2 separate regions of the Homo sapiens genome follow, and region 1 is linked to region 2. Evidence: fine-mapped expression QTL. A gene starts in region 2. The other region holds a variant in brackets. All regions are shown on one strand. Distances are from middle to middle. Region 1 overlaps ZKSCAN1 (zinc finger with KRAB and SCAN domains 1). Region 2 holds the start of AP4M1 (adaptor related protein complex 4 subunit mu 1).

The links. PIP is the estimated chance that this variant, and not a neighbour inherited with it, causes the effect. A credible set is the group of variants that fine-mapping cannot tell apart.
Region 1: its variant is the best candidate, but not a certain one, in a credible set for the expression of AP4M1 in whole blood (TOPMed, PIP 0.61).

What each region holds. Positions count from the first base shown.
Region 1 is chr7:100,036,918-100,039,930 of GRCh38, forward strand. It overlaps ZKSCAN1 (zinc finger with KRAB and SCAN domains 1), which reads left to right. Exons shown (of 6, transcript NM_003439.4): 6 at 1-3,013. Among named protein-coding and RNA genes, the nearest start is that of ZSCAN21, 11 kb to the right of the region's middle. RefSeq lists enhancers at 413-914, 915-1,414. The variant G/A (reference allele first, on the strand shown) is at 1,427.
Region 2 is chr7:100,100,126-100,102,625 of GRCh38, forward strand. AP4M1 (adaptor related protein complex 4 subunit mu 1) reads left to right here and starts at 1,518. Exons shown (of 15, transcript NM_004722.4): 1 at 1,518-1,647; 2 at 1,755-1,843. The coding sequence starts at 1,590. It overlaps MCM7 (minichromosome maintenance complex component 7), which reads right to left and starts at 1,272. Exons shown (of 15, transcript NM_005916.5): 1 at 1,139-1,272. The coding sequence starts at 1,169. RefSeq lists enhancers at 467-626, 972-1,524, 1,547-1,596 and a silencer at 737-836.

The sequences.
Region 1 (3,013 bases), 63 kb before region 2:
GTGACCTGTGCCCTCACATTTAATTCCGTTTCATGGAGACATCTTCCTGACTTTGTTGGATAGCTGCCACTAGGGTTGCTTCGATCTTCAGCCACATGCTGTCCTTGAAGCAGCTATTTGAAGATGTGTTTTCTGAGGAAAACAGGCTACAACTGTTTATTAAAACCACTTGCAGTGCATTCGTTTATCAGATGCTCAGTGCAAAGTGTAATTGGGTCATGGTCAAAAACGCTTGCAACATCTAATTGGCGTTCAAGATAGTCATTCAAAAGTTCTTGGCCCGCTGAAGTCTGTTAACAGTTGAAACATTCTACAGTTAACCATTAGCATGCTAGTTGTCCTAATGGAAATTTTTGAAGAGTTTTTCAATATATACCCTACCCTTGCCAGGAAGAGAAGTAAAATCCTCAGGTTGTGGGGTATTTGTTTCTACTCCAGCCTGGCAGGCAAGGCTAAAACCTGAGATTATCGATCTATGAGACATCTTGATATGTAAAGCACTTAATATTAAAGGCATAAAAGTGAAACTGCTAAATATGTATAGAGAGGTTGACGTGTGATACGTGGGACAGTTCACATAGACATCAGAGAATTTATTCCAGAAAGGAGCCTCCTGAATGTGATGAATACGGCAAAGCCTTTAATCACATCTCAGCCCTTAGCATCGGAAAGCTTATACTGTAAATAAACTTGATGAATATTATATGTGAGGAAAACTTTCATGTATAGCACTCATTGCTTCAGACAGAAAATGAATTCCGTCGGTATGTTCCAATCGTGATGAATTTGAGAAACATTGCAAGAGGGAGCTCAATCTTGGCCGGGCGCCGTGGCTCACGCCTGTAATCGCAGCACTTTGGGAGGCCGAGGCAGGCGGATCACGAGGTCAGTAGTTCGAGACCAGCCTGGCCAACATGGTGAAACCTTGTCTCTACTAAAAATACAAAAAAAAATTAGCTGGGCACAGTGGCGCACGCCTGTAGTCCCAGCTACTCGGGAGGCTGAGGCAGGAGAATGGCTTGAACCTGCGAGGCGGAGGTTGCAGTGAGCTAAGATCATGCCACTGGCACTCCAGCCTTGAGTGACAGAGCGAGGCTCTGTATCAAAAAAAAAAGTTGCGGGGGGGTGCTCAATCTTAACTGCAGAGGATCTACAGATGAAAAAAAATGTGGGGAAATGCTTTAAAAAAATAGCAAAATGTGCAACTTCTTACAAAAATTGTTAACGTTAGGTACTTCTATATATTTTATATGACCATAATGTCCGTGTGTGTTTTGTACCTTCAGTCCCTTGTTATTGTTCCGTATATTACCTGTAAGCAGATACTGTATTTTATTTTAGCCTATTTGACAGAACACATCACTCAGAAAAAGTGAAGTTTCAGAGCAAACAGTGAAGAAATCAGTGTGATTGTAGACAAAAAGTC[G/A]GTTCACAGAACGGAGCAGCGGGGAGAGGAAGGGAAAAGCTTCATAGTTTGGTGCTTATCACATCAAGAGATTGGTAAATTTCTGAGGAAAGACAGGCTAATGGGGCACTGAAATGGAACAACTCCTTTAAACGTGCAGCCTTTTGAATTTTTCCTCAAAACCAAGAAGTTGACCTCTGAGCTGTCAGGTGACCACTGTGTGCAAAGGGGATGGATTCTCTTGTCAGTAGACGGTCTTCTCCATGAAGCGAGAGTAGGAAGTGTACTGGAATGGCCAAGTGGGACTGCTTCAGCTGACCAGGTTCTTTTAAACCGTAGTCATGCTTTCCCACTAACTCTTAAATCCTTATGCTTAGAAAATTGAGGATAAGGCTGGGCACAGTGGCTCAGGCCTGTAATCCCAGCACTTTGGGAGACCAAGGCGGGTGGATCACAAGGTCAGGAGATCGAGACCATCCTGGCTAACATGGCGAAACCCCGTCTCTACTAAAAATACAAAAAAATAGCTGGGCGTGGTGGCGGGCGCCTGTAGTCCCAGCTACTCAGGAGGCTGAGGCAGGAGGATCACTTGAACATGGGAGGCGGAGGTTGCAGTGAGCCAAGATGGCGCCACTGCACTCCAGCCTGGGTGATGGCGTGAGACTCCATGTCAAAAAAAAAAAAAAGGTTGGGGGGAGGATAGGACTGGCCAGGCACGGTGGCTCACTCCTGTAATCTCAGCACTTTGGGAGGCAGAGGTGGGCGGATCACTTGAGGTCAGGAGTTTGAGACCAGCCTGGCCAACGTGGTGAAAGCCTGTCTCTACTAAAAATACAAAAATTAGCCGGGCGTGGTGGTGGGCGCCTGTAGTCCCAGCTACTCAGGAGGCTGAGGCAGGAGAATCACCTAAATCTGGGAGGCAGAGGTTGCAGTGAGCCGAGATTGCACCACTGCACTCCAGCCTGGGTAACAGAGACTCTGTCTCAAAAAAAGAAAAAAAAAAAAGAAAGAAAGAAAGAAAATTGGGGATAGGAGAACAGCAAGGTGGGCATTTCCCGGAATTGTGTGCAGATGCATCCAGTCGTGGCATTGCAAGAAGTCTGTCTGATGAAGCTCGGGAAGCATTTTGCAATATTCCCTTTGGCTGTGTTCCTGTGTTCCCTGCTCCCACTTTTCTTCCCCTGGTTTGTGATTATTAGGAGAGAGGTTTTGCAAAGACTCGTTGCTGTGAAAGAATCTTTTTTTAATTTTTATCCTAGAGTCAGTCACTTTTATTCCAGGTAGTCATGCTGATCTGCTTATCCAAAGCCAGCTAACCAGGTTCATCCTACCATCCTCATGGAAGACTGTGTGTATGAATTGGAGTAACAGAACTGAAATACACTTAAACAGTGACAGCAGTACTTCCCAGGGTGGGGGCCATATTTCTCTGTGTCCTACTCTGAGCAACTTCTCAGAGATACGAGGGGGCTAGGGTTTTCCCATCTGGGAAATGGGGTGAAAGTCTGCAGATTGTTAAATGAAATATAGAATCAGAGAAAAAGAAAAGTCAGTGATATAAATAGATCATTTCATAGAAATTAGGGTAGATTTTTATTTCAACTACTA
Region 2 (2,500 bases):
AACTTTAAGACAAATCTTAGATACCCATTTTCGCTTAAAACACGACCTATGAACTAATTAATAATATGAGCATTTAAATAAACCTACCGAAGTCTCCCCAAAGTGGGCATAACTCTTTTTCACAAGTCTGTTTCTAACCAGCGAAGAATAAAGAGCCCGTGGCAGTGCACAGGGCCATCCAACATCTCCCCAGGGGAATTCCGGTCCCTACTTTAGTTTAAAATTCTAGCGCCCTTCCCCGTTGGCCCCTCACACTCCGGTCTCAAGGTTCTCAGCTTTCTTTCCACCCCTATGATCCCCCGCCTTCTTTGGGTCCCCTTAGCCCCTGATTTCACCGGGACCTCCGCCACCGCACCCCGCCACCGCACCCCACCCCCGCTCCCGCCATCGCTTCCGCTCTTAGTAAACAAAGAAGCACATGGGCCCGGATTCCAGCCGCTTCACAGCTCGGGATTCCTCCGCCCAGGGCGGGAGCCAGTCCAGCCATTGGCCATCACACCCAGAGACACCGCGATCCCAGCCCACTGCCGCCTTTCCCGGGCCCGAGCGAAGCTCCGGATCCCAGGCACGCCCCCCCGGGCCGCAGCTCTCTCCGCGGCCGCCGCGCGGAAGGACACTGTTTACACGACACTCCCTCCAGCCTCCTCGCGCCACTTCCGCCCGGCTCCACTTCCGCTCGGAGGGCGGCCTCAAACGGCCAATCCCGGCGCGCAGCGGCCCCGGCCTGCCCGCCCCCGGGGCCTACGCGCGCCTGGGGAGGGCGCGGGAACCTGGGAATGCCCAAAAGCGCGAAGGAAAGCGGGCACGGGAGCCCAGAGCCCTTAAGACTCTCCTGAGGTCCTGGGCGCGACTTTTCCCTGTGCAGCCCCCAGCCGGGTTAGCGCGCCCCCAAGCCCCCAACCCCACGACCCTAACACCTTTACCAGGTGGGATTACTAGCTTTTCTTCAACATCGATGGCCCCCCGCACGCTTCCCAGGCCCCGTGGGCCTTAGCCAGGCCGCAGCTCGACCCTGCCTCTGGCCTCGCGCACCCCAGAACCCGCCGACCCCGGTCCCCCAAGACCCCAGCTCACACCAACAGGTGTTCCCCGGGAGGCTCCCCGCGCAGGACGCCCTCCCGGGCTCGTAGACCCGTACCCTTCTCTAGCGCGTAGTCCTTCAGTGCCATCGCTGCCGAGGGCCGTGCGGCCGCGCTTGGCGGGCTCAGAGGTCTTGCTCCTGGGGAAGCTGAGAATCTCCGCGCGGTGGACTGTGGCCGGCCAACCGAAATTGGCGCGAAACGTCGCCCCCCACGTGACCGGCGCCACTGCGTGCGGGCCAATCGGACAAGGCGGCCTTCTTCACCTCCCGCTAGCCGCAAGCCAATCACCGTGCGGGCCTAGAATGAGTGACGGGGAGGCGGTGCGGGCGTCGGAAGGGAATCTCCGGGCGGGGTAGTGCAGGCGCCGGGTTTCCCGCGGTCCGAGCTGGCGCGGGCGGAGGAGAATCGCTCTTAAAGGGCCAGCGCACACGCGTTCTTTTGTTCCGGGGCCGCAGGGCGGGGCAGGCCCGACTTTCGCCGTCTTCTTGTCTACTCTCCAGAACGGCCATGATTTCCCAATTCTTCATTCTGTCCTCCAAGGGGGACCCGCTCATCTACAAAGACTGTATCCTAGACCCTTGGGGCTGGGAAGGGGCGGAGGGGCCGGGCGGGAGGGGCGCCCAGGGCCAGCCTGTGTCGCAGGATCCTTCACTGAGTCCTTCCACCCGCCAGTCCGCGGGGACAGTGGCGGCCGGGATGTGGCCGAGCTCTTCTACCGGAAGCTGACGGGACTGCCAGGAGACGAGTCCCCGGTTGTCATGGTAACCAGTGGCGGGAGGCGGGTGAGGAGCGGGGTCCCGTCGGGCCGGGTGGGCGCCAGCTCCCTCCCAGGACTGGTTCATTGGTAGATTCCACTTGGGGGGTGCATTCCGCCAAATAAAGCTAACGTGAGGCCCGGCGCGGTGGCTCACGCCTGTAATCCCAGCACTTTGGGAGACCGAGGCGGGCGGATCACCTGAGGTCAGGAGTTCGAAATCAGCCTGGCCAACATGGTGAAACTCCGCCTCTACTAAAAATACAAAAAAAAAAAAAACATAGCTGGGCGTGGTGGCGGGCGCCTGTAATCCCATCTACTCGGGAAGCTGAGGCTTGAGAATCGCTTGAATCCAAGAGGCAGAGGTTGCAGTGAGCCGAGATCCGGACACCGCACTCCAGCCTGGGAGACAGAGCGAGACTCCCTCTCGGGGTAGGTGGGGGTGGGGAAAAAAAAAAAAAGAGTCAATGGGCGCCAGCAACACACCAGGCCCAGCTCCCTGCGTGACTCCATCCTCAGCAACTCGGGGTAGTTAGTGTAATTAACCCCCTTTCCACATTGGGAAGCTGGGCCCAGGCATATGTCATGTATCTCCCAAAGGCACTGCTGTTGTGACTAGTAAGAGGCATCGGGATCCGAGCTCAGGTCTCCTGGGTTCTGATCA